3 linked regions of the Homo sapiens genome follow. The protein of the gene in region 3 interacts with the protein of the main gene of each other region in a pairwise test. Each region holds a gene or a part of one and is shown on either strand. Other genes may lie near its edges.

Region 1 (7,308 bases), on a different chromosome or scaffold from region 3:
AAAACATATTCCACTGGGATTATCTCAAAGGTCCCTTTTTGGCTCCATAAATCCTGTGTTACACTAGTCTTTTCCCCATCCCCAACAAACCACCTCTCAGCGACCAAACTCCCATTACCGTTTCTTCATTTCTTGCTTCTTTCTCTTTATCCTGGAGCCCCTTTCTCTCAGGTAGTAGCGTAGAGGGTTAACCCACAGATCATTCTTGATAATCTGTTGAAAAAGGGGAGAAGGAATAAGACAGCCATTAGTACAAGCTCCAGATCCTCCTCTTAATTCCCCACGCACCCAGGAACAAGCCTAGCAAGGCCTTCTCTGGTGATGCCAGGAAGGGCCCCACCTCAGCAATCCTGTCAGCCTCTGGGAGGCTATGGTTTGAGAACCAGCTGAAAAAGCTGTGGCTCGCATCCTGGTTCCCGTGACGACGGGCCTGGGGTTCCTGGCCCCGGTGCCAGCGGATTGGGGTTGAGTGAGACACCAGCCGGCCTAGGGAGAGAGAAGGCTATGGAGATGGGACAAAACAAGGACAGATTGAGGGGGGGAACATGGATTTACTCTGGTACTGCCACTTACCTGAGCGGTTGCGCTGGAACTCCTTGACAATCACCATGTTTGTGAAGTAGGGGTTAGTCTGGAAGTACAGCTTCATTTTGTAGCCCATGGAGATATGTCTGAGATCCTGTACCTGCTCCAGGTGGGGGTGATGGTGGAATCTGTCCCCCCCCCAACACACCACGGCCCTTCCCACCCACCTCCCGTCACCTCCAAGAACCAGATTCGTGCCCGATCCTACTAAAAAATGTCTCTCTGGCCTGACCTGCAGATTGGTCAAGTAGCGGAAAATGTCTTCATCACGTCGGTTGATCAAAATTGAAATTCTGGGGTGGTTGAGGAACTGATGAGTGGAGCAGTTTAGGTCAAGGATTGACTATTCCGTGAAAGGGAGGGAGGGAAGGCCAGGAAGGGCACAGTAAGAGAGGCTGGAGCATGAGGATTCCTTCTGTGCTTATGTGGTGTGTATAAAGCAAGTGAGTCATGGGACATAACCCATACTTATTCCCATGATAAACCTCTATGTTAGGTGGCCCTACAGGGTGTCGACAATCCATGTGCATGTGGTATATGTCACTGGGTGCTGAAAGCTTGTGTTCACAAAATGCACGTCTGGGGGCTTAAGGGCCATGTCCAAGTGATGCTGTAACTGATTGCTGAGGGCCTGTGGTCACGTTATTGTATGTATGGGTGTTGAAGGTCCATGTCCACATGATGTGTGAATGGCTCTGATGGCTTGTGGTCAAGTTATGCCATGTGTCTACATGCTGAGGACCTGTGGTCACATAATACTGTGTCTAGGAGCTGAGGTCCTATGTCTAAATGATATTGTATGCCTGGGTGCTAAGGGCCTCTTACCATGTGCTGTTTCATATGAGGGCTAAGGGTCTGTATCCACATAATTCTATTAGGATGTTCGACTCATGTTCCTAACATGTTACATGTATGTGTATGTGTCTACTCTCCCCTTTCCTTCATTTAACTCCTTTTTCTCTATACCTAGACACTCCCTCTCTTGATCTTTCAGGGGCTCCAGCCCCCCTCCCTCCAATGCAAGGCACTCCAGCCAGGATTGGGGTCTCCTAGTATCTTAAGCAAAAATCTAGGTTTACAGAGCCTTGTATGGCTCAAGCACCCTTTCTGGGCAGTTTCTCTGCTGTGTGCCATTCCCCTCCCTCTTCAAGGTCTCTGAGTCAGTTCATCTTCTACGTGCCCCTCCCCTCCTCCTTTCACCATCTCTGGTCCAATTTTTTTGCTGTGTGCCCCTTTACTACCCTCCCCCTTTTTATCATCTGTGATCCTTTTTTTAATGCTATGTTCCTCCTCTTCCCCCTTTCCCATCTGTGGTCCAGTTTTTATGTCCGCCCCCCCTCCACCACCCTTCATCATCTCCAGTCCAGCTTCTCTGCTGTTTTGCCCTCCTCCTTCCATCCCTCTTCCACCCAGTCTAGTCCGTCTTCCGATAGGGGGATCATGCCCACCTCTGGCTCTCCTCCACCCGCTTTACCTTTTCTGTCCCTCCCCCACCTTCCCCTTTCCTGTCACGGGCTTCTGACCTACGGAGTATCGATTAGAAGGATACTGCTTTGACCCAGAAGCCTGGGATATGCTGGATGATGAGGTCTCTGCGCTCCAGGAAGGGTCTTCGCATCTGGATGAACTTGCGCTTGAGACGCAGGAAGGCTTTGCCTGCCTTGATGTTCACTGCCTCCAGATCCAGCTGAATATCCTCCAGTGCCTGCAGGATGCTCTCCATCCTCTCGGCATTTCTCTCTCTGCTTTCCCTCTTCACCTTCCTCTGCTTCCTCCTCCGCCGCCGCCGCCGCCTCCTGCTGCTCCTCATACTCTCCCGCTCATCCTCATCCTCATCCTCCACTATGATGATCGCCTCTTCCTTGCTCTTCGGGTCAACTAACCTCTGGGGCGCCCACCCCACTGCGCTACAGGTTTCTAGGGCCCCCTCTCCACCAAAACTGCTCGACTGTACAACCTGAAAATCGATTTCCAGGCTCCCCCCCGAGGCCTCAGGAGTGGGGAGTGCTTCCAGGCTCTCCGTGGGCGGGGGCGCCTCCCCATACCCCGACTCGATGGTAGAATCCCAGCCGGGACACTCAGCACCGAGCGTGAAGTATGCGCGGATCCCCCCCTCCTCGAGAATGACATAGGGAGGCGGCGGGGGCAGCGCGGGGCCCAGTCCCACCCCCCTCATATCGGCCAGCACCTGTGCCGCCTCCGTTTCCTCCTGGAGCCTCGGGCGCTGCTGGGGTGGAGGCAGCGGCAGTCGGAGGAGCGGCGGCGGCGGCGGCGGCGGGGGCGGGTCGCGCTGTGGAGACTCGGAGCTGCTCAGGCGGCGGGTCTTGGCCGGAGGCCCCTCATCTGGGCGGTCCATGGCGACCGCGTTCGTACAGCTCAGGGGACTCGCACTCGCCCCTTCGCTTTTAGCCGCGTCGCTGCCGCTAGTCGCACCGGTAAGCAGAGCTGAGGAGACTCACGCAACCAGCTCTCCTCACCACCTCGCTCTGGCGTTCCCTCCCACAGCGCCCGCTCTACTCCCTCCGCGCCAATCGCCGAAGCCCCGCCCACTCCTGACGCAGGGGTCCGCTCGGCCTGGCCATTGGCTGCCGGCCGCCGCGGCGGCGATCGCGCTCCCGCGACCCCTGCCCGCTCTCACGCAATCCGCTTGCCAACACCACACATCATCAGTTTCCGATTGGCTCCCCTCGGGCCCGCCAATCAACGGGCTGACTCCCTCAGCGACGGGAGGGAAACTGCAGGGCGATTGGCTGCGAGGAAAGCTGGGGAAGAAGCCCCTCTCCCTCACCCTCTCAGCGTTTTATCCAATGGGAAAAGTACCAGTGGTTCTGAAGACCAAAAAACGAGACGAAAAACAAACGCAGGCGCTGAGCAGGATGTGCTCACATGAAATTGGAAGAGCCTCGTTATCGTTCCCCCCGCCCCCCTCCCCTCAGCAACTACGCACTTTTAAAATCTGCCCCTTCCCCCATTTCCTTCAGCTCCTTCCCCCACCCCCGCTTCTGCCCCTTCCCCCATCCCGGGTCCTGCCCCTTCCCCCATCCCAGCTCCTGCCCCTTCTCCCACCCCCGCTTCTGCCCCTTCTCCCATCCCCCACTGCTGCCCCTTTTTCCATCCCCGCTTCTGCCCCTTCCTCCACTCCCCGTTTCTGTCCCTTCCCCCACCCCCCGTTTCTGCCCCTTCCCCCATCCCCCGCTTCGGCCCCTTCCCCCACCCCACCCCCGCTTCTGCCCCTTCACCCCCCGCTTCTGCCCCTTCCTCCCCCGCTTCTGCCCCTTCCCTCACCCCCCCTTCTGCCCCTTCCCGCATTCCCTGCTTCTGACCCCCATCCCCCAACTGTCTCTTCCCTCACCCCCACTTCTGCCCCTTCCCCTATCCCCCAACTTCTGCCCCTTCCTTCACCCCCCAACCCCACTTCTGCCCCTTCCCTCACCCTCCCGCCCTCCGCTTCTGCCCTTCCCCTATCCCCCAACTTCTGCCCCTTCCCTCACACAACCCCTGCCCCCCGCCCCCCCGCTTCTGCCTCTTTTCCTACCTTCCACTTCTGCCCCTTCCCCCACCCCCCACGTTTGCCCCCTGGGTGAACTCTGCTGTAGCTCCTCGGGGGCTCGGGCTGCCCTACCGCCTGCGCCTGCAATTTAGGCACCCAGGGTGTTTGGTTTGGGGGCCAGGTTTTGACGTGGCGTTTTCCATCTCCGCAAAATGGCTCTACAAATAATAATCACACACACAAAAAAGTAACTTCCTCTGCGTCATAAAAATGATTGTGATTCAGCTCATCTGCTAGAATTTTCTAGCACTTTCTGTCTCTTCATTTCTCCCCCTTTCCATCCTTTCCTCTCCCTTTCCCCAGTGTATGCTGTATTTTAAGATTTTTCTTTTTAAACCAGAGATGGATGGTCTTTTGTGAGGCATGGTGGTGGAGGGCTGGCTTTGGTGCTGGGATTCACATCATGGGTGTGCCCCTCATTTTGTAACCTTAACCAAATCACTGCCCCTCTCTGAGCTTCAGTTTTCTCTCCCCTAAATTAGGCATCCCTCAAGAGAGGTGTAGGTAACTGCCCATTGCAGCCTTGTCGCGGAGCAGAGAGGAGACCTAGGGATCCATCATCAGGGGAGTGGATAAGAAAAATGTGATATATGTTTTAGATGGACCACTAGAATGAATTAGATCTATATACGGCAACATGGCTGGATCTCTCAAAGACAGAATGTTGAGTGAAAAAAGAAACAACAAGATTTATAGTACAATACTGTTTATGTAAATTAAAACACACAGCAATACCATACATTTTTCACAGATACACATATATGTAAATAAACACATGAACGGTGGATTGGAAGGACGTACGTTAAATACACGAGAGTGGGTGCCTGTGTAGGGGGCGGGGAGGATGGGATCAGGAATGGGTGATGAAGGGGACAAAACTGAAGAAAAAAAAATAAAAGGGCCTCACATGGACCAATGATGATATAGTGTGCCAAGAACTGAGGAGTATGGTCAACTCAATTCTGTGCACCTGAGAGAATAACCAGATAGTAAATTAACTGTCTAGGGAGCAGGCTGGCTGGGTAGACTCCTGGGCTTGGGTTTTTTTTCCCCATGACATCCCTCCCTCTAAATTTGGTCAAAGCTGACCAAAGTCCCAGCTGCATACAGTGGCCCCTAGGAAGGGCTCCCATCCCAGACTGAGCAGTCCCTCCAGAAGCCATTACTTTGTGGGGGGCATTTCCTAACCTCATCAGTTTCCCTCACATTTGATCCTCAATTCCCAGTCCCCATTCTCCATGGTGGTCCAATTTTAGGAACACCTTGTTTGAGTTTGGGAAGGAGACTGAGACGGGGTTGAGATGGGGCTACAGGCTTTGTGAGGAGATGAGGTTTTCAAGTTCCCTGGCGGCCCCAGCCCTCCCGTGCTCAGGGCCTGGGCCAAGGGAGGCCCATCTTGTGAGATGGGAGTCTACCCTCTTGCTACCGACCTATGTAGTTTCCAAGATCCATCTCTTGACCACTCGACTTCCTACCACGGGCACATACTCTAGTTTGTCTCCTCTCAACTGTGGTGTGTGTGTGTGTGTGTGTATGCATGCACGTGCTGTATCTGTCCCCATATACAGGCATTTTACGTGTGTGCACCGGGCAAGTTTTCTTCAGGAGTGCCTCCCCACACAAAGTCACACAGACACACACTATCACTCAATCATGTCTCTCCACATGTGGTCAGACAGGGCACATGCACGCACGCACGCACACACACACACACAGTCAGAAAGAGAAAACATCCAGTATAGCATTGTTCATTTCAGTTTTTCCATTTACAAAATCCAATGGTGAATCCAGGCAGTTAGAAAAAAGAAATGGAGGAAAACCCTCCTAAATGTACCCTATCTACCCCCCACCCCCTTGGTCTTCCCACCCCACCCCCTCGGAAAGGCACCCCCATCACTATCGCTGAGAGAACAGGCTCCCCTACTCCCAGCCTCTCAGCCACTCTGGCCTGCCTTTCCAGGGCCACTCTGCAGCCAGGCTCATTAATGTCTCTCCTGCCTAGAGTGCCCTCCCCATTCTGTATGGGTCAGGCTTCCCCAGTTCTGGGGCTCTCTTGGGCTAGGGAGGGAGTTTAGGACAGGGACTTCTATAAAGAAGGGAAAGGGGGATGGATAAATACAGATTCCGGCCCCACAGGAAGTGAGAGGGGGACAGAGAGCCTGGGTAAGACCAGGGCAAGGAGTGCCAGCTTGGCTCACCAATCCACAGAACAGGCCTCAAAGTAAGCCCAGAGTGGACTCCACCCCTGGGAGGAGGCTTGGATCTCCCTCCTGGAGAATCTGACTGCAGTGTGCTCCACTTTGGGTGTAGGTAAGGGTGGGGGAAGGATGGGGAAGGAGGGTTGTTGGGAAAGAAGGATGCTTGGGGCTCAGGGCCCAGTCAGCCAAGGGCTACTAAGGAGGGGCTTGAGGCCCCTGAGGCTTGAGGGGGACAAAAAGAGGTCAGATAGGAATGGACTCAAGTCCACAGTGCCTTGGAGTTTGTACCGCTATCGGTTACCAAGGCCCCAAACAAATTTTCATCTTCAGAAGAGTAGGGTGAACCCGAGAGACAATTCTGGGGTTGAAATCAGCTCTGACCCAAGTCTCTGTGGTCCAGCTACTCTGGGGAGTTCAGCTCCCTCCTTACACTTTCCTGGTGGGCTGCTCCTGCCTGTATGGCACCCACATCAGTCCTAGTGGGGCTGGAGTGGATTTCCATCCTCAGGAAGAAGAGTTGGGGGCTGGGGATCCTGAAGGCAGCGTGAGAGAATGTGACCAAGTGTGGGTCTCTTCAGTTCGAGGAGTTCAGCTCACATCTTACTCTTCACCTAACCTGGGCCCATCCTTGGGGCCCTTCTCCCTACTCCCTTGACTTCTCCAACAGATGCACAAGAACCATTTGGGAGGTCTGGACATGGTGGGGAGGGAGAAGAGACTGGGCTTGGGGCAAGGGTTGGCCTAAAACAACATTGCACATGACATAGTAATTAAACATCCCTGCTCCCTGGGAACCCAGCACCCCCTTTGGTCCCTCTTGTCAGCAGCCTTGGACCACTTTCTCCCTAAACATCCAGGCCTTGCTAAAGGACTTGGAAGGGGAGGGTGCATGGGAGCAGAGGGGGCAAAAGAGCTCTGGAAGTCTATTTTACAGGACAAATTCCCCCTTCTGGACAGTGTCAGAAGGAGAGACAT
Region 2 (7,109 bases), on a different chromosome or scaffold from region 3:
TGAGAACTGGTTAAATAAATTAATGGCACATCTGTACAATGGAATCTTATGGAGCCATATAACTACTTTTTGAAGGCAGCTTTATATGAATTAAATTTATATGAGGTGATATGGAATTCATAAGTAAAAAAGGTACATAACAGTATCAAGGGCATATTTATGTAGGGGAACACACACACATACACATGTATATGCTTATCTAAGCATAGAAATCTCTGAAAAGCTGTGTTAGGAACTGGGAAGAATAGCTCTGTGGAGGGGAACTGAGTGACTGGGAGTACAGGGGTAAGGAGTTAACTACACAGCCTAATGTGTCTTTCTAAATTTCATACTATGTACTTGTATTATATATTTGAAAAATAAAGTGTAATAGGAAGGGGGAGACAGACCAAAAGAAATCAATCTGCCTTGTAAGATTAAAAAGAAAGAAAGAAAAGGAAGAAAAACTTAGGTTTATACAGTCCAGACCTGCTTTTGAGAAGCAGGTAGAAAATAAGTTGTCAGTGATTTTTATCAAGTAATTCTTTTATTTCATAATTTTTTTTTCTGTCTAGGAAAGATAGCTCTTTAGGGTAAATGTAAATAGTGTGATCCCTTTACATATATTCTGAGAAGAAAATGCAAAATTAAGAAAAGTCACAAAATGAAAAACTACTTTTTCTTTTTTCTTCTGTAAATTTAAGCATTTAGAAAACAAAAATGTTTGTATATTCTATGACTCTATTCCTGGGCGTTGGAGCATTTCTCTTTGTATACTTTGAGTGAAGTCCTTTTGTTGTTGTTGTTGAGACAGAGTCTAGCTCTGCCACCAGGCTGGAGTGCAGTGGCGCAATCTTGGCTCACTGCAACTTCTGCCTTTCGGGTTCAAGCAATTCTCCTGCCTCAGCCTCAGGAGTAGCTGGGATTACAGGCACGTGCCGCCACGCCCAGCTGATTTTTGTGTTTTTAGTAGAGATGGGGTTTCACCATGTTGGCCAGGCTGGTCTTGAACTCCTGACCTCGTGATCCACCCACCTCGGCTTTCCAAAGTGCTGGGATTATAGGCATGAGCCACCGCACCCAGCGGAAGTTCTTTTTTTCAACCTCTTCAGTCTGGATCCAGTTGTATATGGCTTTTGGTTTTTTGTAAGTTTCTCTTTAAGTGGACTCATCAAGAAAAATAATAGAATGGATATTTAGGTTAATTTTACTGATAACCCGATTGATATAGTGTAGTTCTCTGATAACAGACTCATCATCAGAATTTACCAGCATAAATGAAAGCCTGCCAAGGCATATTAATAAAATAGGCTGATGGAAACTAATCAAATACATTTTATCTTGTTTCTTATGAAAACACTTATAAGAAAATACCTATTTTTTAAAAAAAAGTGAGTGCTAAATTCAGGATGGTTGACATCAAAAGTCCCTTTATTTAATCAAATTAAGTTCACAGTCTTTTTCCCTTGTCTAATTTAAACATTACTATAGCAGACAGGGTTTGCTGAGTTCCTCTTGGCATGTGGTGCATATTCTGCATGCTTCTAAACAATTAAATAAAATTTGCCAAGAGGGTTATGCAGCAAATACATGAGATAAATGTCATCAGAAGAAACATCCAGTCCTTCACTTGCAGAGTGTTAGATCTCAGGGAAACGTGTGTGACATGGGGGAAGATGTGAAATTACTTTTGGAGAGGTTAGTTCCTATGGATGGCGTAGTAATGATGTGCTTATAGTCCCCTCACCCAGAGCTAACCCTGATCAGCAAGGACATTATGATATATGTAAAGAGAACACTTACCAAATTTTTATATGTCTTAACAAGTTATGAAAAGAGTTTTGGGTTTTTTTTTTCCTCATGGGTTTAGATTTGCTAGGTGAAGGTGCAAAATTTTGTTTTAATGGAAACTTAGATGGGGGGAAAAAAGATTTCTGTAAGGAAATAGACAACACACTTTTCCTGTTAGGACCTTAGCCAACCCAGAATTCCTGTATTTTACTTCAGAGGAGTTTAAAGGCTTAAATACATTGTTCCTGCATTCTAGTGTCTTTGTGTTTTTCTGTTAGAGTCAGTAATTTTGAACTCGCTCTTGCTTTTCATCCATTTCAACCAAAGCAAGATGAACTAAGGTTTCCAGAACAAATCTGTTATTAATAGAGTGTTTCCAGAGTACTTTTTTGTGCTGTTTTTAACTACTGCTACATTGAAAAAGAAAAAGGAGCCAGAAAAAAATCTGAAAAGTAATGTAACATTATGTTTTAAAGTAGGTATTTTGATGAATTTAAGATTATTCATTTTTCACCTTCTGTGTGTAAACTGTCTTGATTTCTTTTTTTTCCCCCACCCCGAGATGGAGTATCACTCTGTCGCCCAGGCTGGAGTGCAGTGGCACGATCTTGGCTCACTGCAACCTCTGCCTCCTGGGTTCAAGCGATTCTCCTGCCTCGGCCTCCTGAGTAGCTGGGATTACAGGCGTGTGCCACCACACCCAGCAAATTTTTGTATTTTTAGTACAGACAGGGTTTCACCATGTTGGTCAGGCTGGTCTCAAACTCCTGACCTCAGGTGTTCCGCCCGCCTCAGCCTCCTAAAGTGCTGGGATTACAGGCATGAGCCACCGCGCCCGGCCTTGATTTCTTTCAAAATAACCAGGCCACTACTTACTTTTCTGTCTTCTTTTTCTCCTTTTTTCTTCTCCCCTCTTCCTTTTCCTTCCTGCCCAGTTTTATTTCATCTGAATTTCCTTCAGTTCTTGAGACTGTCTTGACAATACTGAATATTACAAAGAAGCATAATATTAATAATAAACCCCAATACCAAGAAAGAACCATTATTATTAGTTGGCTTATTTCCTTCAACCTCTTGGTTAGGATTCTTTCTGTTCTGTGTTCTATTTGTACCCATTTACCACTCTGCTTACTAAGGAGCATGCCGCAATTATGGATGTGGCCTACTACCTGGAATTCACTGACCTATTGCCCACCCTCCATCCTGAAGCTCTTTCTTTCTTTACAAGGGTCAGCCCCTGGACAAGAGGTTGTATTCCCTTACTGAGTCTTATTTCTACCTTTATCTTGATCAGCCATGATAACCGGTTGGCTCTGTTTTAGTCCTTTTCACCCTTGCTATAGAATAACATTTATATAATTTTAATTAGGTAGATTCCAGAGCTCTTGCTGTGCTGTAATCCCTACTTGTTTTCAGAAAAGCACTATAAGACTGTGAAACCCTCCAGCCCCCAAATTCCTGCTTATGTCTAAACTTAGTTAACTTTCAATTAGGCCCAGACTGAATTCTCAGTTTATTTTGGCAGAATGAAACCCTTTTAAATTGTTTAAAGAAGGGTTTCAGTTTAGAATTTCATGTTGGGTAGAGCAGAAATGTTTTTAAACCAGGGGTTGGCAAACTTCATATAAAGGGCCAGACAGTAAATATTTTAGGTTTTGCAGGTTATATGATCTCTATCATAGCTACTCAGCTCTTCTGCTCCAGTGCATTCATAGCCATAGACAATCTGTAAATGAATGAGCATGAGCATGTTTCAATAAAACTTTATTTACAAAAATAGGCAGTGGGTATAATTTGCCAACTCTGTTTTAGGGTGGGCTGTAAATCTCTAAAGCATTATATGATGACAAACTTACTTGTTTAAGCAGAAATGTTAAGTAGTTAAATATTTACTTTCCATCACATGCTATAAGAAATCACATACATATTAAAGGCTGAAACACAAAATGAAAGATATAAAGATACTCAGTGATATTCAAGCCCATTGGCCATAATACAAAAGACTGACAAATTTGACTGTATTAAAATTAAGATCACAAAGCACACTATAAAAAACAAATGACAGACCAGAAAAAAATTGCATTCTGTATGACTAGCAATTGCTATGATTTCTCTGCACCCATAAGAAGAATAACCCCCTAAAAAAGGAACAACAGATAGAAATTCACAAGAAAAGATATAAATGGTCAATAAACAGGAAAAGATGCTCATTCTTATTAGTAGTGAAGTCTCTATATTAAAGGGAAATTTTTTGCTGCCAAATTTATACATTTGAATAATTAATAATAGTGTATTGGGGGATAAAGGGAAATAAACAACTGAGGATGATTGTGATAATTTTTATTAGTTATCTATTCTTATACAATAAATTATCCACAATTTAGCAGCTTAACACAACCAGCATTTATTATCTCATAGTTTTCATAGATCAGGAATCCAGGAATGGCTTAGCTGGTTGTTTCTGGCTCAGAGTTCTGTAGAGGTTGCTGTCCAGCTGTCAGCCTGGGCTGCAGTCATTGGGACTGGATGGTCCACTTGGAAACTCACTCATGTGGATGTGGACAGGTCCCAGGTCCTCACTGCCTGTTGGTCAGAGACATCAGTTCCTCACAACATGGGCCTCACCATCCACTGCCTGAGTGTCCTCACACGGCAGCTAGTTTTCCCTTGAGTGAATAAGAGAGAAAGCATCCAAGACAGATGTCATAGTGTCTTCTGTATTCTGATCCTTGAAGTGACATACCATCACTGCCACATGCTGTTGGTCGCACAGCCTAATCATGGTGCAGTGTGGGAAGGGACTATACGGAGGTGTGCAGACCAGGAGGCAGGGATCCTTAGGGACCTTGGAGGTTGATGTCCACATTCCTGTGCTGGGACTGAATGTCTGAGGCCTTGTTTCTGTCTATCACCTGGTTTCTGCACTTCTCCATGTGGCATTTGCTGTGGCTACAGTGTCCAAGATGGCATTTTCTCTCAAATGCTGGCACCTGGGTGGAGTTGGCAGAAGACCCTGGGGACTGTCAGAGCATCTTTCACTCCATGTAGCCTCTCCACATGGCTATCCTGGGCTTCCTTACAACATCATAGTCTCAGGTTAGTCAGACTTCTTATATGGCCTCTGGTTTCCCCCAGAGCCAGCATTTTAGGAGACCTAGGCAGAAATTTCAAAGCATCTTATAACCTAGCCTTGAATTGTTTAGATTTTCTTGCTCAACAACCTGTCACAGGACTGGCCCAGATTCAAGGGCATGATTAGCCAGAGGTATGACTTACTGTGAGGAGCCGTCTTTGAAACTTGTCCCAGGAAACCATGATTGTGAAAGATGATGCTGACGTGTTCTAAAAGTAGTAGCAGTGCAAGGAATAAAAATTGATCTGATACTGGAAATATTTTGAAGATAAAATGAACTTGCCTATGAATTAGTTATGTATAGGTGGGATAATTAGAGAAGTGAAAGATTAATTTGAGAATTTTGAGCTGAGTGGTTTGAAGAGTGGGTATCTATTTACTGAGATGGGAAAGACTGCAGGACAATAGGTTTGAAAAGCAAAATCAGGATTGATTAACATTTTGGACATCTGTGTAAGAGAATACATCTAAAGATGTAGCTATTAAGAAGGGGATCTACAATAGATCTGTAAGTCTTGAAGTAGAAATGCTATCCATGGTATTATTTGCAAGGTACAATAAAGAGAGTATTAATTCTATTAGGAAGAAATAAATATTAATATCATTAACATAGAATTAACATATTTATTAATATTGCATAAACCTACATGTTCTAACATGTCTTTCTACACCTGTGTTAAGCATTTGAATTAAACTACAGGCAGAGAGAATTTTTTGAAGGTTTTTGATTAGAAGACCGATATGATCATAATTATGTTTTGGGAAGATGAATTTAACAGTGTAAGGAGTGAAAGAAGAGTGGGGTAGCCAGGGACTGAACTCTATGAAAGCATACCAAGTTACATTGAAAGTCTATGAAATAAGTTCATGGAGGTCACAGACAATGTTGCTTTCCTGGTTTTATTCTTAGCTTCTAGCCTAGAGCAAGCCACTTGAAAGGGATTTGTTAAATAGTGAATGAATGAATAAATGCATCATTGGCAGTTCAAGCTATTTGAGAAAAGAGTAATCTGAATTAGTAAAATGTCTCAATTATAGATATTTTTCATTGAAATTTTATTATGTTCAGGAGGTAACAGAATCTAGTATAGCATCAACAGGTAGACCTATGGAGACCTGATTTAGTTAGTAGACAAAAAGCATATCAAATATCATCTTATTTTCTTTCATGCTGTATTTCACTCTTTAAAAAAGAAAAGAGTTTACAAGAATTAGGGTTATTTTAAGTTTGTCTCCTACCTGCATAAATTCCTTAAGCTTATAACTTATTTGAATGGTTAGTAAAAGATTCTGAACATCTGAGGTATATTGTTCAAAAAGAGTATAACTATCAAGCAGGAATTTCAAAAGAAATTTTTCAGAGAAAGATACATTGATTAAGTTGTCACTAAGCCAAAGACCATACTTCCCTAGTCCCATAGGAAGTAGATGTTATATTGTTTTAAATAAACTGCAAGATATTTGCTAAAAGTGTCTTGTTTATTTCAGGCGCTACACTAAGTATGAGACCAGCCCCCATTCCAATAGAGGACCCTGAATGGAGACAAACGCCTCCCCCAGTCTCTGCCACATCTGGTACTTTCCGACTGCGACGAGGGAGTCGATTTACCTGGAGAAAGGAGTGCCTGGCTGTTATGGAAAGGTATGTGTCTCCTTTTTCTACGAATGATCTCCCAAACTTAGGGAAGACATCAACTCTGGATAGACTGGGACAGTTTTCATTTCAAACAAGTAACTTGGTATCTTGGTTCTATCTCTAAAAGTACTTTAGAATATCATAAATGCTGTATTATAGAAATAAGGTCATCTTAGCATTGAGAATTCATAAAGCTGGAGTTAGCATCTGTCAATTTATTTTACTTATAATAGTGTCCCCAGTAATTTAAGAAATGTTGGAATAAATATTTTTTGAATTCAGATCTTTGTATTATATTTTGGAAAAACTCTTTGAAGTCTTCTTTTCATCAAAAATAATGAATAATTGTATAGGAGACTACTGAGATTTAACTTTCCTTTAATAAGGAGTATGGTCTAAGTAAGCTTTGTCCCAAAGGTTAAAAATACTTATTTTTGACTTTGTTTTAGTAATTTATCCTCTCATTCTGTCACCAGTACCTGATCCATAGTAGGCACTCAGTGGTTTTTTTTTTAACCTGAATTTGACCGTAGCTTCAATTTTCCTATCTGAAATGGTATAAATTAATTA
Region 3 (7,109 bases):
CAGGAGACGAATTATTGGTTAAGTACATTTAGGAAGTGGAGTTGTGGCTTTTATTTGACATTAATGAGATATTTACTTGAGTATATAATTTTTACATCTTATTTCAGAATAAGAAGTAAAATACGGGTGTCACAAATCCAACTACAGTTAAAACTTGATAACCAAGCAAACTTGGTTTTCTTAATGCTTAATTTTAGAGACTACAGAATACTGTTTTTAATGTCACCATTTCAGGGTAATAGATTTGTCACTTGTATGAAGAAGGCTTACTAGTGAAACTGGCTTGGGGTCTTAATAATCTTAATTCTGAAACATCTTCTTGTTGCCTTTGAGATTTTTCTCCCAGTTATTTTGAGTTTGGAAAGGATCCCTAATTCTTATAAATTACTGTAGATTACATCAATCTGTGGATTTTATAGGTTGATTTCATGGTAAGAAAACTTCATTTTTGTAACCAGTGGAAGGATAATCTTAGTTTTAAAGTGCTCTATAACATTTTTAGGCATTCCTATTACAAAGATTCTATTATAATGCCCATTTACCTTTCCCATCGTTTTGGTTACGTTGTGCTTTTTAGTTTATCTGATATGCTCTAGAATTTGTTGAACATCTTTGTTAAATATCTTTTTCTTTTTTTTTTTTGAGACGAGTCTCACTCTATCGCCCAGGCTGGAGTGCAGTGGTACGATCTCGGCTCACTGCAACCTCTGCCTTGTGGGTTCAAGCGATTCTCCTTCCTCAGCCTCCTGAGTAACTGGGATTACAGGTGAGTGCCACCACCCCTGGCTAATTTTTGTTTTTAGTAGAGATGCGATTTCACCATGTTGTCCAGGCTGGTCTTGAAATTCCTTGACCTCAAATGATCCTCCCACCTGGGTCTTCCAAAGTGCTGGGATTACAGGAGTGAGCCGCCACCGCAGGCCATGTTAAATATCTTAAGTGCTACTTTTAAAAAGATAATTAGGCCGGGCATGGTGGCTCACCCCTGTAATCCCAGCACTTTGGGAGGCCGAGTCGGGTGGATCATTTGAGGTCAAGGAATTCCAAGACCAGCCTGGACAACATGGTGAAACCCCATCTCTACTAAAAATACAAAAAAATGAGCCAGGCATGGTGGTGCAGGCATGTAATCCCAGCTACTCAGGAGGCTGGGGCAGGAGAATGGCTTGAATCTGGGAGGCGGAGGTTACAGTGAGCTGAGATTGCACCACTGCACTCCAGCGTGGGCGACAGAGCAAGACTCCATCTCAAAAAAAGATAATTAAATATAAAGACATAGATATTAGAGGTTATGACCTGAGATGTCATTTATGGTATTGGAAGGTTTTGTGGTAAAAAGTGACTAATTTATGAAATGATTAAATACCACTTGGTACAAAAAGTTGATTTTTTTCCCCCCAGAAGAAAGTTTTTCAAAACCAGTGTAAGTTTATAGCGTGTTTATTTTAGTAAATTTAGAAATTCTTGAAATTTATATGTAATTTTATTTTTACTTTGGTTATAAAGATAGTAGGGAGAAGTATTTTGGTTATAAAGATAGTAGGGAGAAGTATTTAGCTATGTGAAACCGCTAAAAACTAGCTTTTCTTTACTCTGAACTTTTTTTCTCTTCAGTGAAGCTGAAGTACTTTTTAAAAAAGTTATGCTCTTAGGTTAATTTCAGAGGCTATGGTAACTTTAAAAAAAATTTAAAAAATTTTAAACATAATTTTATTTTCATTCTTCCAACACAGTATCATGTAAAAATAGTTTAAAATATGGTTGAATGAATGAGTCATCCAAAAAGTGATCAAATGTCAGCACTTGTTACTGAACGTGTATTTATGCTAAAAAAGTTAATGCCGAGAAAATAGAAGACAGTCTCAAGTTCAAGTAGTAAATTAGCTTTTAAATGGAATTTTAATATTTAAAATGCCCGTGGAGTTAGTTAACAAATTAGTACTAGCTATTGAATCAGTTAATATATGAAAGTACTCTTGGCCAGGCATGTGGCCCACACCTGTGATTCCAGCACTTTGGGAGGCCGAGGAGGGCAGATCACATGAGGTCAGGAGACTAGCCTGAGCATGAACCACCAGACCTGGCGCAAATCTTAATATTACTGCCTATATTTCAATTTTTGAGTAGTATATCTTTGAACTTTAGTTCCTCAACTACAAAACAGGTATTACTCTGAAGTGTTGTTTTGTGGTTCAAGTGAAATAATTTCTGTTAAAGAGCGCTGTGAACTGTTTGGAGGAATCCATCCACGTTGCTTGAATGCGTGCATCTTTTCTGTTGTAGAATGGTATTTTGGAGGGCAGGGACATTTTTGCTTTTTTAGTATCTTTGTAAGTACCTAACATAATATCTTGGGTGTGGTGAATACTCCATTAATTACTAGCATTAAATTGAGAATACCAACAGTAGTATGTATGTATGCATTTATGTATTTATTTTGAGACAGAGTCTTGCTCTGTCACGCAGGCTGGAGTGCAGTGGCGCGATCTCAGCTCACTGCAGCCTCTGCCTCCTGAGTAGCTGGGACCACAGGCACCTGGCCCAACAGTAGTATTTATTTAACGTCTTACTACTTGAGGTCTCTTGTCTATGAAAGGGGGACAATAATGGTTCCTATCCTGTAAGATTGCAATGTGAATTGTAGAGTATTTGGTACACGTTCATTAAGTGTTTACTGTGTGATGGGTATATTCTACAGATGTATATAGAATCCATGTTATGTGACAGATGCTTTATTTTTTTTGATATAGGGTCTCACTCTGTCACCCAGGCTGGAGTGCAGTGGTGCGATCTTGGCTCACGGCAGCCTCTGCCTCCCGGGTTCAAGCAATTCTCCTGCCTCAGCCTCCTGAGTATCTGGGATTACAGGCGCATGCCACCGTGCCCTGCTCGTTTTCTTTTTTTTTTTTTTTTTGTATTTTTAGTAGAGAGGGTTGCACCATGTTGGCCAGGCTGGTCTCAAACTCTTGACCTCAAATGATCCGCTTGCCTCGGCCTCCCAAAGTGCCGGGATTATGGGCATGAGCCACCGTGCCCGGCCTCATGCCAGGTACTCTTCTAAATGCTGGGGATACAGCAGGGTATAAAACAAAACCCTTACCTCATGAGTGGCAGAGAGAATCACTGCACAAATGAATTGATAATAGCTAGTAACGTCTGTTATTGTGAAGTGCTGTACGATCTGGAATGCCCAAAAGTACTGTATCAATCAGGTGTTAGATGTATGACAAGAGTCTGCAAATGAGTGTTGCAGAAATTTGCAAAAGGATATGGTAGACTAAAATATTTGATTACAGCATGTACATTTTAATCAGTTTTCTATGACTGTTCTGTGGTGGGCCTAAAAGCCTTCATATGAAACCTTTCATTTTAAATTGTTTTTAATATGTACGTGCAGCTAGTTATAAAAAAATATAACTAGCTTTCTTTTTTTTGGACGATAACTAGCTGAACGTACATATTAAAAACAATTAGAAAAGAAATGGAATGCTTCATGAATTTGCATGTCATCCTTGTGCAGGGGCCATGCTCATTTTCTCTGTATTGTTCCAAGTTTATCATATATGTTGCTGAAGCAAGCATGCCAGTTATCTATTGGTAAAAAGTTTTGGAATAAGTTTTCTAGTAATGGCAGTGGTCTAACCTATGATTAATTTATTTTTGCGATGAATAGTTTGTATTTGTGAAAGTAGTAATTATATTGGTCTTAAATACTAAGACCCATTGCGCCCCATTTAGTGATAAGAAACATGACGGTATCTCCTCAGATACTTTGTTTTTAAAGAGCAGGCTAAAGAGATTATTGTATTCTGTTTTTTCTGTAAATTGCGACATGGTGCATTCAAATTAGAACTGGAGGCAGGTATGGTTACTCACACCTGTCATCCCTGCACTTTGGAAGGCCAAGGTGGGAGGATCCCTTGAGCCTAGGGGTTCGAGACCAGCCAGGACAGTGTAACAAGATCCCATCTACAGGCGGGACACGGTAGCTCACGCCTGTAATCCCAGCACTTTTGGAGGCTGAAGCAGGCAGATCACAAGGTCAGGAGATCAAGACCATCCTGGCTAACACGGTGAAACCCCGTCTCTACTAAAAATACAGAAAAAAATTAGCTGGGCGTGGTGGCGGGCACCTGTAGTCCCAGCTACTTGGGAGACTGAGGCAGGAGAACGGCGTGAACCCAGGAGGCGGAGCTTGCAGTGAGCAGAGTTTGCGCCACTGCACTCCAGCCTGGGCGACAGAGCGAGACTCCGTTTCCAAAAAAAAAAAAAAAAAAAGATCTCATCTACAAAAAATGAAAAAATTAGCCAGATGTGGTGTCACATGCCTCAATTCCTAGCTACTTGAAAGGCTGAGGCAGGAGGATCACTTGGATCCAGGAGTCTGAGGCTGCAGTGAGCTGTGATTGTGCCACTGTAGTCAAACCTGGGTGACAGCAAGACTCTCACAAAAAACAAAAAAACAAAAAAACAAAAAAATTAGAGTTGGAACGTGTTGTATAGTTAGTGACTAAAGATTTTGTGTGGGAAGGGGGACAGATTTTAGGCTTGCGTAAATGATGAAGAGAGAATTCTAGAAAGCCTAACTGAAAACATGTAGGCAGGAATGAGCGTAGCATGTTCAGGAGACTTCCTGCCAACATCTAAGGATGCGCCACTGGACCTGGGAAGTAAGAATTAATGGTGCAAGTGAGGCCTTTCATGCCAACACAAGTGTGTACGTCTCTCAGTATAGGTTTGTGAATCAAATTCTTTTTATTCTCTTCACTTTCTTTCTGTGTAATTCCCTAGTTCACATTCAAGTCTTACGTTGAACAGGCTGGTTCCTTGTTAGACATATTGTCAGCATTCCGAGTTCTTTCTTGCCCTCACCCCAATATGGGTAATTGTTTACCATTTATCTCCACTGCTGGGTTGTGTGCTCCCTGAGAAGAAAAACCATGTCTATCTTGATTGGCACTTTATCTGTAGCACCTGGCTATGTAAACGTTATTTCTGAATACGTTTTCTTGAGGATTTAATTTGAACAATAGTTTGCATTGTTTTTCCAGACACAACCGTCACTAGAATAACTAAAGGAACATTGAGTAGTGAAAGAGCATGGACGTAATCTAACTTCTCAGAAGTTGCTTCCTTATCTGTAAAATAGGAGCAGTGTTAGGATTAAGTGAGATGACATGCAAAGGGGTTACGTATTTACTTCGTAGAGTCATTTATATATCCCCATTTCTCATGCAGAGATGGTGCAGTGGAAAGAATACTCCAGCTGAGGATAAGCGATCAGTATTGTAGTCTTGACTTTATTGCCGTCAGGAAATGTGGCAAATTGTTTATTTCTGTGAAGCTCAGATTGATTCTTTTTCTTAAAAATGAGGGTTTTTGACAAAACAGTATAAAGTAATTTGGAGCTCGAATGCGAGGGTGCTGCTGTAGAGTTGGCAAGTACTTTAAATACAGTTAAACAAATAGATAATGGATTATCTTCTTTAGACAAACTCGGAATATTGCCGTGTGTGGCTTTGTTATATCCAGGATCTCAAGGATATCTTAGGTAGGTTCTTTTGGGTTTAAAAATCACCATATTTCTTTTTAAAACATTTTTTTATTTTTGAAAATGGAGACTAGGTCTTGCTATGTTGCCGAGACTGGTTTTCAACTCTTGGGCTCCAGTGATTCTCTCTGCTTGACCTCCCAAAGTGCTGGGATTACAGGCGTGAGCCACTGTGCCTTGCCAGAAGTCATCATATTTCTACTTCATATTTATGATGTTGTATTGAAATATCCATTTGTGTTTATTTCCTCTAGGCTATAACATTTTAAAAGTAAAGATCAGGCCGGACATGGTGGCTCACATCCGTAGTAAAAATACAAAAATTAGGCGCATGCCTGTAATCCCAGCTACTTGGGAGGCTGAGGCAGGAGAATAGCTTGAACCCGGGAGGTGGAGGTTGCAGTGATCTGAGATCGTGCCATTGTGCTCCAGCCTGGGCAACAGAGCAAGACTCCATCTCAAAAAAAAAAAAAAGTAAAGATCAGGTCTCATATATACTTGCAGAACTTGCCTTCTGCACTCACTCAGTATGTCGTAGCCTGTATTCATTCTCAGTAATTGGTTGAATTCAACTTAATGTGGAAATACCTGATTGCATATTTCTTTCTCAGTTTCATTAGTGTGGCTGATTAAAGAAAAAGAGAACAGTTTTTTTTTGTTTTGTTTGTACTTCGAGACAGGGTCTTGCTCTGTCACTCAGGCTGGAGTGCAGTGGTACCGTCACAGCTCACTGCAGCCTCAAACTCCTGGACCCAAGTGACTGTCCTGCCTCAGCCTTCCAAATAGCTGGAGCTACAGGCATGCACTACCATGCCCAGCTGCTTTTTTCATTTTTTGTAGAGATGGGGTCTCCGTGTGTTGCCCAGGCTGGTCTCGAACCCCTGAGCTCAAGCAGTCCTCCCACCTTGGCCTCCCAAAGTGCAGGGATTACAGGTGTGAGCCACCACACCTGGCCATCATTACTTTTCATAAATATTTTTTAAAGTACAAAGAGTAGATGAATTGGCAATAGATTTTTTAGTGTTTTAAATTAATCTTGGAAATTGTTATATCAACATGTGTTTTGAGGTGTTCAGTCAAGAATGACAGTAGTCATTCTTGTCAGAAATGCATACTGAAATCATCTGATATTTTTCCTCAAAATTTCCTTAGGAAAGATCTTTTTATGATTTAATACTAATTAAACCTTCAGATGCAATTGCTTCTTTATTAAATGGGGGGTGTTCTTCATAGTGGATTTCTTTTTTTAAACATACCATCTTTGTGTATATACATTTCTCTGGAAATGTTTGTGAAAAGGTAAAGATAACTTCCTTAGTGTAATTGTGTTGAAGTGGAATGTTTCTAGTGTTTGTGAAGATATCAATTGCTGGCTGATATTTTAAGCTGGATGAAAAATGTGGGTGAAGTAATCTTAAAGGGTGATAGATTTGATATGAGAAATTTAAAGTAATGTGCTCAGTGCGTAGTGGTGATAAAAGAATGTAGCCTACTTGTTTTCCATAGACTATATTTCATCATTGTTGCATAAAGTCCCTTTTGGCCAATTTAGTGAATG

What was found.
Region 1: the proteins of AEBP2 (region 3) and TSPYL2 interact in binary tests that used the Homo sapiens proteins (3 or more experiments, as listed by UniProt).
Region 2: the proteins of AEBP2 (region 3) and HMBOX1 interact in binary tests that used the Homo sapiens proteins (3 or more experiments, as listed by UniProt).

Annotation. Positions count from the first base shown.
Region 1 is NC_000023.11:53,078,132-53,085,439, reverse strand, and holds the start of TSPYL2 (testis-specific Y-encoded-like protein 2), read right to left. Parts: upstream 3,074-7,308; 5' UTR 2,942-3,073; coding exon 2,135-2,941; intron 896-2,134; coding exon 818-895; coding exon of another isoform or gene 686-817; coding exon 574-685; intron 487-573; coding exon 341-486; intron 214-340; coding exon 119-213; intron 1-118. UniProt on the Homo sapiens protein: Part of the CASK/TBR1/TSPYL2 transcriptional complex which modulates gene expression in response to neuronal synaptic activity, probably by facilitating nucleosome assembly. May inhibit cell proliferation by inducing p53-dependent CDKN1A expression.
Region 2 is NC_000008.11:29,012,369-29,019,477, forward strand, and holds part of HMBOX1 (homeobox-containing protein 1), read left to right. Parts: intron 1-2,666; exon of another isoform or gene 2,667-2,754; intron 2,755-6,391; coding exon 6,392-6,545; exon of another isoform or gene 6,546-7,109. UniProt on the Homo sapiens protein: Binds directly to 5'-TTAGGG-3' repeats in telomeric DNA. Associates with the telomerase complex at sites of active telomere processing and positively regulates telomere elongation.
Region 3 is NC_000012.12:19,442,474-19,449,582, forward strand, and holds part of AEBP2 (zinc finger protein AEBP2), read left to right. Parts: intron 1-650; exon of another isoform or gene 651-766; intron 767-7,109. UniProt on the Homo sapiens protein: Acts as an accessory subunit for the core Polycomb repressive complex 2 (PRC2), which mediates histone H3K27 (H3K27me3) trimethylation on chromatin leading to transcriptional repression of the affected target gene.